Linked DNA regions of Homo sapiens: region 1 is linked to region 2. The links come from fine-mapping of genetic effects on plasma protein levels. A gene starts in region 2. The other region holds a variant in brackets. All regions are shown on one strand. Distances are between the middles of the regions.

The links. PIP is the posterior inclusion probability: the model's chance that the variant is causal. The UK Biobank Pharma Proteomics Project read protein levels with antibody pairs (Olink). The fine-mapping took linkage between variants from a reference panel, not from the people measured, so its PIPs are less certain.
Region 1: its variant is fine-mapped to the plasma level of the GALNT2 protein (UK Biobank, PIP above 0.99). The variant lies in the coding sequence of GALNT2. If it changes the protein, the assay may bind it differently, which can mimic a change of level.

The regions. Positions count from the first base shown.
Region 1 is chr1:230,248,231-230,253,595 of GRCh38, reverse strand. GALNT2 (polypeptide N-acetylgalactosaminyltransferase 2) reads right to left here. Exons shown (of 16, transcript NM_004481.5): 9 at 4,325-4,412; 10 at 3,036-3,139. Among named protein-coding and RNA genes, the nearest start is that of PGBD5, 180 kb to the left of the region's middle. RefSeq lists enhancers at 931-1,591, 1,592-2,253. The variant T/G (reference allele first, on the strand shown) is at 3,104.
Region 2 is chr1:230,064,305-230,069,669 of GRCh38, reverse strand. It overlaps GALNT2 (polypeptide N-acetylgalactosaminyltransferase 2), which reads right to left and starts at 2,432. Exons shown (of 16, transcript NM_004481.5): 1 at 2,264-2,432. The coding sequence starts at 2,389. RefSeq lists enhancers at 623-702, 3,057-3,216 and silencers at 1,617-1,676, 2,117-2,926.

The DNA.
Region 1 (5,365 bases), 180 kb before region 2:
CTATGTATCCCATGAATATGCACAATTATTATCTGTCAATTAACAAATTAAAAGAAGTAAAAATATACACATATAGTATCTACAGAGTGTGCAGTCACTGTCACCAATGCAGATTGATCAGAAATAGGGTGGGTCCATCACAGACCATACAGTGAGTTGATGGCAAATCCTGCAGGCAGTCAACCTAGTTATGGCAACAGGTGCCCAGAATGCCAGGCACATGGCAGGAAATACAACACAGGGGTCAGAACACCATGAGTTTCTACTTGGGTCCAGCAAACTAATGCCTCACTCACTAGGAATGGGTGATCCATGCAGCTGTTACGGGGCTTTAATAAGCAACTCTCTTGTACTAATAGAAAATGTATGGTTACAATCACATAAGCATAAGCAGTGAAAGTTTCCGACTTTACTTTTTACAGTTCCCAACACAACCTAAGAAGTTGTCGGCTGGGCGCAGTGGCTCATGCCTGTAATCCCAACACTTTGGGAGGCCGAGGCAGGCGGATCACCTGAGGTTGGGAGTTTGAGACCAGCCTGACCAACATGGAGAAACCCTGTCTCTACTAAAAATACAAAAAATTAGCCGGGCACGGTGGCACATGCCTGTAATCCCAGTTACTTGGGAGGCTGAGGCAGGAGAATCACTTGAACCCGGGAGGCGAACGTTGCGGTGAGCCAAGAATGTGCCACTGGACTCCAGCCTGGTGACAGAGCGAGACTCCATCTCAAAAAAAAAAAAAAAAAAAAAAGAAGTTGTCTCTATTTCAGAAAATAAAATTTAAATATCCATTTGCCTCACCACAAGATTTAGAATTAGGGGCTAGGAAATCCCCTTGGCTTCTCTATGGGGAATCTGTTAAGCCAACAAGGGATCCTTCCAGGGCTTTTGTGGGAGATTTTCAAGGCTAAGTATAACTACAGTATCTTCAGCGTTGATTTCATTTGAACCCTATAACTTTGAGGATAATTACTCAGTAAAACTCAATGGCTTTTTAATTAGGCAGTTAGTGTTTACATCTTGGTTCTGAGACCCTGGGCAAGGTGTCATGACCTCTGCAGACCACACTCCGTTAAGAAAGCACAAACAGATGATTCCCTGGAAGTACTTAGCATCATCCTTGCATGACAGGGATGTAGAGAAACACAGATGATGCCCCCAAGGAGCCTTACCCCCATTGTTAGAGTTAAGGGTTAGGTTCTTGGTCCTCCATTTTAATTGCTTAAATGACATAAGGACTTACATGATTAGGAAAATGGGAAGCTCTGGTCATTCCAGCGGGGCACACGTTGAGGAGGTGGTTTTGGATCTTACTCGGGCCTCTCTGCACCATACACCTCTCCCAATGCACACCCACAGAGGCCCCTCAGGTTGGCAATGGCTAGTAGTGTGCACGGCCCCCAGAAGCAGAAGCTAGAGCAGTGCTAAGGAGAAAGGCTCACGGCATGGCCTTCTCACGTGAAGCTCTTGAGCCCTCCAAACCTCACTGGGAGTCCAAGTCCTTGGCATAACCCAGGAGAGCCCCTCACGGAGGGACAGATGCCCCAGCCTTCCTGGGCAGAGATGTGCTCCTGCTTGCAGGGTTCATCTTCACCCCAACCTGAACCGCTCAGACCCTAGAACCTTCTAGCACAGCTACATAATAAATACAAACACCAAACCACAATAAAGCAGCTCCTTACAACAAATCTACCCCCCAGTCTCTGGGTGAATGCCTCCTTAGATATGTAAATCAACACTCTTCCTACACGATGACACAAAATGCTGGCTGATGTCTCATTTCAGCTAATAGTATGCAAACTTCTGAAAACCACACTGTTTTTGAGAAATGGCCACCTACACGATACGCTGCCCTACTGGGCGACCCTGGCCTGCTGGATTTCCACTAAACCATTAGGGGATACCCATGGAACAGGGTGACAGAACTCTCTTTAGAGGGTTAACAATTCTGAAGCCTTTTGTACTCAAGTGACTTCAATCCAAGCTTTCCCTAGAGGTTAATGTATCATTTTTTTAAAACAACCCAAAAGGAGTTTGACTCACGGTCTCTCCACCCGTGCAGTATAGTAATCGAGCCTAAAGAAGCTTTCAACATCAAACCAAGGCAGAGAAATCCTCAAAGATGAGATGGTATCACTGACTTCAACATCATAAAACAATGGAAAAATAATAGGCTAGGCTAGTCTTTTCTTTTAAAGTAACAAAAACTTTCAAAGTCTCAAAACTATTAAAAATGAGTGGCCTCATTTTCCCCTTTCCTTCTCCCCTGTCCTCCAGGGTACACTCACCCAAGGACGAATGTAAGTTAACAACACTCAGCAGCCCAGGAGAATTCGCTCAGAATGTCAAGCATTTGAAACAAAAGGCTTTAATTGAAACAAGCAAAAAAGATCTCCCCCACTCCAAACCCTAAACAAACAAAACACATCTTTTCATCTTTTATGCAGTAAATATAAGGCTACCAATATAGACCACAATGTGCAAAATTTTGCTGTGCCTAAACCTGGGTAAAAATAATTTGCATGGGGTATTTAAAAACAAAAAAACAAACAAACAGAAAAACAAATGAGAACCATTCGCAAAGGTAGTCGAGAAGGGATTAAGTGCCAAGGCCTCCCTGCCCCATCGGATTTTCATGATTTCAATTCAATCAATCCCACCAGCCTCGCCGGGGTTCATTTTCCACTCTCCACCACTCAGCATGAATCTGAGCTCCTGGACTGTTTCCCTCTGTTTTTGCAAGCCTGCAACATTCCAAACACTTGGGTTCAGACGCCTTGAAAGAGTTTGCATTTCCCTTCAAAGACTTTATCCGTATTCTGGCATCCTCCACTCTAACCTAGGGAGGCACATTTTAATGCCCAACTCATGAGACTTTCAAGAGCAAAAGGGGTGTTACATATGTGTTTGCAAGGATCGATTAAGCCCAGTGAATGGTCACTCTGAAGCCTTTTAAATTTTTTTTCCAATTGGCACCCTGCCTTTTGCAGAGCTGAGGCACTTCTCTGTCCTGAGATTTGAGGCTTGTACATACCTAGGTTCTCTCCTCCCCACACATCCATCATCATGTCGTACTTCCCCAGTTCTTCAAAATAGAACTTA[T/G]CCATCACAAACAGCCCACCAGCAATCATGGGGGTTCTAAAGAGGCAGAAAGAAGAGGGGGGAGGGAGGAGAGGGCAAAGTCAAGGTTAGATTGCCAGCACCCTTGCGCCAAGGCCAAGCCTTGATTCCCTAACAATAAGCTGATCTTCAGAACAGCCACACTGCCACTGTTTTCTGCTCAGTGCCCAGCATGCCACTCTCTCTGCTTCACCACTGCTGCCTTCAAATGCCTCCCCCACTGTCCCTGCCTGGATGTTCCCACAGTGCCAGGGGCTGGACTGAGCCTCCCCTATGTGGGAGCGACTGCTGGGGCTGGATCACTACTCACTGACATGCTGCCATAGGCAAAGAACTCGGCCTTTCTGTGTGTCAGTTTCCTTATAGGGTAGCTACGAGGATTGCAAAAAATCATGGGCATAAAGCCCTGAGCACGCTTAGGAAATGCTCCACAGCACCAGCTCTCATTATCACTATCATAGATGAGACTCCACCTCCTACAAGGGAACCCACCATGCTCCTCACTTCATCATCCCAGGAAGGGGTTGACAACAGATGTACACTGAGCTCCCTACTTTGTTCCCAGAAGCGATGCTGTGCGAATTCAGTGTAAAGTGCTGGGAAGGTCTATGGCACACTGCAGATGTTGGCTAAATGTCAGCAAATATATTTCAGCGCTAAGTACTCTGTGAATGCTATCTCACTTAACCGTGTGCCAACTTGGAAGAGGTGGCCCCCTTCTCTCCCCAGCTAGAGAAGGCATCCTGACTCTCAACCAGAAAGCCCACCGCCCGGCCTGGGAATCTTAAAAGCATGGGCTTCATGAGCATGGGCTCCTTCCTCTGCAGGAGAGCAAAGGCCTGCTGGGCAGTAGCAGCAGTAAGCCTCCTGCTGCCCACCAAGCCCCTTTTCCTGGGCCTGGGGTCAGCTCGGAGATCCTGCTCTGCTACAGAAACGCTCTACATTATCAACATACAGGAATGCACAGACCTAGCAGATAGGCCTTATAAACCTATGTGAGACTTCAACTGTGGAAAAGAAATCTCCAAGGATTTTATTCTATGACCTGGTGGAAGGTGCTCATCTTTGAGCTGAGACGAGGGGAAACCGGAGGGCAGAAGGTGAACAGCCCCCACTGGGTCTCCAGGCGGTGCGGGCCCAGCAAAGAAGCTGGAACCTGGGGTCTCATCTGGGAGGGGCACCCTGAAGGATGCTGGCACTTACTTTATAGGGGCGACTGGGTTCCCCTGCCGGGACCTTCTCTGCTCAGGCGTCATGTAATCCCACTTGAATACCAAGTTCCAATCAAAACCTGCCAGCCAGGAAAAGAAACAGGGTGTTGACAAGAGACTGGCCACTTCCTCCCGACACCCCCATTCCTCACAGCTTAAAAATATTCGATGTTTGGACAGAACTCAATGAAAACCAAAACAAAGCCAAAAAAGAAGGTGTGGAGGAGAGAGAAGGGGACTGGGGGCGTGGGTGTAGCTGAAGAGAGAGACCGGCAGTGAGGGTGAATGTTGAAATCTTCTCCCTGCCCCTCCCTAAAGAAAATGTGAGTCAGGCTTTTCTAATATTGAAATGCATAGGAAAAAATGAAATATGGGGAGAGAACTGGGGTCTGTGTGGTGATAACCAGGGCATGTCCAAGGGCTGTAAGGATGTGAGGAAAAAGAGCATCCAACATGAAAATCAAGCCGTGGTACCTCCAACACTGCCCCAGGGGAAGGCAATGCTGGGGAGGGAACGAGGCTTTGTCAGTTCCCTGGGCCAGCAAACTTCAGACTGTATTTGCAGCAAGAATGGAGTGGGAACATGCTGGGAATATGAAAACTTTAAGGGAAAATGAGCCAGCGGAAGTTGCCAAGCTGGGCAAATAAGCTTCAATTTCAGATATATTTGGCACCTGTTGCATTTCATTTTTGGAATCCACAGACCCCTGAGGATAGAAGAGCCTAGACCCTGTACCCGGACTTGGTTGTGGGCATCTGCAGGGCCTCAGGTCTCGCTCTTGCTCCCAGGGTCACACACATAGTGCCTCTTGGAGGCCAGCAGGCTCCACCTGCGGAAGCTGTCCTGGTGCATCAGGAGGCCACTTCTTGGCAAACACATGGCTCATGGTGCTGCATTTCCAATTCCAAGGGTCTGACAGCAAAACCTAATGACTCTAGGGCATGCATCTTTCAATCCTCTTAAGCTCTCTGCCATCAGGCTTTTTGTCAACAGGGCTTTTGCAATGCCTAAGTTTGGATTTGTCTGCATGCT
Region 2 (5,365 bases):
AGTGTCTAAATCCATGGAAACAATTGGGGAAGAAAGAAGACTACACGATTTTCCTATACATCAGGCATTCGTGACAGCAGGGCTCTATTTACCTCCTTCAGAAACCATCTTAAGGCTTCTCTTTAACCCTGGGTCCACCACACGAAGTTAATGAGTCTTCCACTGCAATTTCAAAAGCTATTGCATTTACACACCTCTTCCTCAACCGACAAATCACTAAAGCATCCTAAGGGGTAGCATTAAATTTTATGGTTCGTTGACAGAAAGAATAGAATCCCAAATCACCAATCCATGTGTAATTAATTGTTCATTTCCCCCACTTTTTCTACCTGGTCTCCGTACCTGTCTATATTGCCACCAGGAATTCTTTAAAAAAAACAAAACAAAACAAAACAAAACAAAAAAAAACAAACTAAGAATCACACACTTCAGGAGTGTCTGAAGACTTCTGCATGGAAGACCCCTCACACCATCCAGGAACTGAAGCCCACCAGAGTGAGGAATCAGCCTCCGGGAGGCGAACGAGCACGCTTGCTCTTTCTAATCACGTGTACTAATGAAAGTGGCAGACTAAGGAAAGAGAAACGCCAAGGGTGGCTTATGTGTTTGGTTTTCTTTGCATGAAAGGCAGAAAGCTTTGCCAGGTCTCACCAGCACACCAGGCTATGCAGAGTGGCCAAGGCACAGTTTACCGGGAAGCAAAGTTTTAAAAATCATTCCAGTTTTACACGATTATATCTCTGAATGGACTGCACGGCTTTTGCTGCCTGCATGCTCTTTGCTGTTCAAGAATAAACCAAGTCTTCGCGTACATATACTACCTATACCATTTTTTACAAAAACAACGCTAAGAGTACAATGTCAGCTCAGAAGCTAGGCCGATTCAGCACGTGGAAAGAGGGCTTTATTTCTGCCCTTCTAGATAAAACAAATCCACGTAATTTACCAGAAACCACATAAGGCACCCATTCCACCTAACATCTTCGGCTATGAATGAATGAATGAAGCAAAGAAAAAACCTCTGAAGCAGCCAAACCCCGGCGTGGACATTTAGGGGTCTGACTTCAGAACTGAAGTCTGTTCATCTAGTTAGTTCCCTCTGGCTTGTTTCAGGATACCACTCTCTTGTTCCAACCCAACCACCCGTAGTCCATCTCCATTAACTCAGAATTTTCTGGGTTTGCGGTGACACTAAATGTCACAGTAACGAGGGTTACAGGAATTCGGAAAAGATAACGCTGCTTTCAAAGCCGAGGAGCCAGTAAAACACTACAAACGTCCCCTGCCGGCATGCTCCAGCACACAGCCCGACGCCCTGCTCTCCCGGCCGGCGCTCGGCCGCAGGACCGCGCTGTCCCGGCTCCTCTCGGCGCTCACCATCCTCCCGAATGCCCAGGGCCCGGCCGTCCGGAGCGGCGGCACGAGGACGCGGAACCGCAGAGCGGCTCACACGGTCCCCACAGCCAGATCACTCGGCCCCTGGAGCATGTTAAAAACACAGCCACAGAAGAGGGATTCTCCCTGAAGCGGGGAGTGGGGATGGAAAATGCAAGCGCAGGAGGCCACGTCCGGCTCGCGCGGGAGGGCCGGGGGCCGGGTTGGGCAGAGGGTAACGCTGGGGCCGCAAGGGAACGGCCGGGACTGGCCTCGCTCGGGGCGCAGGGGCGCACTGGCCCCTGGCTCGCACGGGCCCTGGGGCTTTACTTGGCACGGGAGCGGCCGCCCCTGCCCCCCAAAGGTAAAGGGCAAAGAAGGTGGCAGAAACACGGAACCCACGCCCCGCGGAGTGACAGGGGGAAAGGGACGAGGATTTGCAGCCGCTGGTATCAAAGGGCTGAAAAGAAACTTGGACTCCTCTCTCCTGCTGTACATGACGCGTTGGAAAAGCGGTCGCCTCTCTCTCCTCTCCTCCCCACCCCCTTTGTGTTTCCCAACACCCCCATCCCTAAACTTCCAACCGCAGGGGATGGGGCTCCCGGCGGCCGGACAAGACTCGAATTACGACGAGCAGAGAGAGGGGCGACGTCCACGAGAGGGGGCAGAGAAAGGCTGCGGGGGCCGCCCTTTCGGAGCCCGGCGTGCGCAGAGGGGCCGGGTGCACCCCTGCCCTGGGCACTCGGCGCGGAGGCCCGGGACGAGGGCGGGCGACGCGAGCGGAGGTCCGGGCGGAGGAGCGCAGGGGCGGCGCGGAGAGGGCAGGGGACAGGGGCGCAGGGTGGGGGGTGGGCGCAGGGGCCCGGCCGCGGCAGGGCGCTCCACTCACCTTCCTGCCGGCGCCGCCGCCCGCGCCCCCGGCCAGCGCAGAGCCGCCCCCCGAGTACATGTAGTAGGCGATGCCCAGCACCCACAGGAAGGCGAAGCAGAGCAGCATCCGCGAGCGCCGCCGCATTCTCCCAACTCGGCCGCCGGCGGGGCCGCCGCTGCTCGCGAGTGCTGCCTGGGCCGGCCGCGGGCGCGGTGGGGGCCGGGGGAGGAGCGGAGGAAGGGGAAGGGCGCGGCGGCGGCTCCTCCTCCCGCGCGGTGCTACTGCTCGGCGGCGGCGCGCACTCGGCGCCCGAGCTCCGCCCCGGGCCGGCGGCGCCGCGCGGCACCAGAGCAGGAAGCAGCGGCCTCGGAGGCGGCGAGGGGGGTCAGGGAGCAAAGGGCGACCAATCGGCGGCGGCTGCGGGGGCCGGGGCGCGGGCCGCGGGAGGGGACTGCCGCGTCTCCATGGCTGCAGCACGCCGGGCTCCGCCGTGAGGGCCTGGGCGCCGCCCCGCCCCCGGCCGCCCGCCCCTCAGCGTGCTCCCCCCGCCGGCCGCCCCCTCCCCCGTGAGTGACAGGTGGCTGCCCCGGGACCCGACTGGAGCGCGCGCACACGTGGGCAAAGAGCCTTGCTCACGCACACGGGGCCTCTCGATTACGGGGGCGGTAGTGGCCTCGGTGCTTCCTGCCCAGACTGTCACCTCTTCAGCCTTGGTCTTTGGGGCCACCTCAGACCCTTAACGGGCTTGCTCTTATTGGCCAACTGACCTGAGTTTTTGGTGCAAACCGCCCGCTTGAACCCGACTTTGCTGCTGCTTGCTGCAGTTTTCTCACTAATCTTGCAGCAAAACATTCCTGACCCGCTGGTATCGATTTTATTTATCTATATAGGCAGATGTGGAGGTTTTGAGTTGGTAGGAACTGAGAAGGTAATTTTCAAAAGAACATTTTTCTGTGGGTGACAGAGCTATCAATGGTAGAGTTGTTCTTTTCAATAAACACAAAATGAGGAAGAAGGAAAGCAATAATATATTGTTTAAAATCTTTTCTTTCTCATTCGTTGCGTTCTTTAAAAAGCACATTAAGCATCTTTAACGATACAAGAAAACGATCTGTCTTGTAACATAATCTATGTAACCTTGGTGATGCCCTTGCAACACGCAAAGCTTCCAGTGTTCCTAAGAAAGACAGAAATTTTACTTAGAACTTGATATATTAAATGTTTTCAGGAGCTTCTCGGTCAGAGGATAATGGCAGCTGCCTGATATAAGTCCGTACCCATATCCTCAACGAAACAAAAACAAGCCTTCAGCATTACTTAGAGAGAATGCCATGAACTGAACATTAAATTACTTAAGTAGAAGAAAGAAAAGATACCAAATTCCAACTGAGCTCCCTCCACTATTGCCAAGGACTTAAGTGAAGTACAGGGTTGTCACCTCTTTATAAATAGAAAGTCCAACACCAAGAACTAAAAACTGAACAGAGGTCAGGTGCCTTATTGATCAAGGGAAGAGATTTGAAAGAAAATGGGACAAGAGGTGAGAGGCTTGAAGGAGCCTTGTTTCTGGGAAAAAGTCAGATAAATACGAAAAGAAGATAATGTCCTTCAGAGGCCTGACAATGAAGGGAAAGAAGGAAGTCAGAAGGGAAAATTACAAATCCTGCAGAAATGAAAGAGAAGACAGCCAGTCCCCTCCCCAAACACCAACATTATCTATTAAAAACTGCATTTCAGTACACAGATAAAAGAAAACACTCTTGAACCGGGAACCCTGCCTCAAAATGCCTAGTAACAGAAAAACATCAAATCAACTGCATTTAAAGATTCTGCAAAAAGAAAACAGAAATCACATTTCTGATGATAAAAAATAAATCATAACATTTTCGCTGATGAAAACCCCCACAATAAAAACCATGAAGCATAAGAAAATTGTAATACCACATGTCAAACTGAACAAAGTGTCACGTATTTGTATACACATACACACACACACACATATCTAGGATAAGAAATTTCAAGAACTGAAGACAGACTAGACAAAAATTAGGAAGAAATGCAACAAGGGTTGAGCAAATTCAAGAAGGAAATTGAAAGTAATGACAAAAACTATCCCAGAAACAAAGAATAATTACAAGGTGTCCAAGGGAAAATATATTCAAATGAAAATATGTAAAAGGACACTGAAGAATGGCAAGAAAACAATCAAGAAATTGAAAATAATATAAAGATAGAAGTAAAAAGGTTCAGAGAGAAGAGGTTAAAATAAAAGCCAGGAAAGGAAGACCAAAATACATGTTAAGTGGAGTCCCTAAAGTACAAACATTAAACAATAAAACCTAATTAATATTAAAACTATAACCCCAGAAAATAATCCAGGAATAAGGGAAAATTTAAATGTACATGTCAAAAGTGACTTCCATGTACCTTGGGAAATGATCTGGAATTATCAACTCCTAAATATATTTTAGTAAAACGATTAGATTTTAAAGGCAAAAAAGATCAAATTGCTTATAGAGATAAAAATTTATGCTGGCATCAGACTTCTGAACAGCAACATGCAAAGCCAGGCAACAGTGGAGCAGCATTAACAAGGAACAAAAGTGCCAGGCAGGCTGGGCATAGTGGCTCATGCCTGTAATCCCAGCACTTTGGGAGGCCAGAGTGGGTGGATCACCTGAGGTCAGGAGTTCAAGACCAGCCTGGCCAAAGTGGTGAAACCCCATCACTAAAAAAAATATGAAACTTAGCCGGCAGGTGCCTGTAATCGCAGCTACTCGAGAGGCTGAGGTGGAAGAATCATTTGAACCCGGGAGGCAGAGGTTGCAGTGAGCTGAGATCATGCCATTGCACTCCAGCCTGGGTGACAGAGCGAGACTCCATGACACACACACAAAAAAGTACCAGGCAGTGATTTTTATACCCAGCCCTCAAGTGTCAAGGTTGTAGGCAAACAGATATGACCTGAATGCAAAAATTCAGAGAACGTGACTCACATGGGCCTTTCATGAGGAATCTTAGAGAATGAGCTTCCTCCAACCAAGAGACAGCTGAGGAAGCCAGCAGAGTGACTAATGGAGAGCATTTTGTATATTCAGAAGGTGAAAGACTAGTGTATAT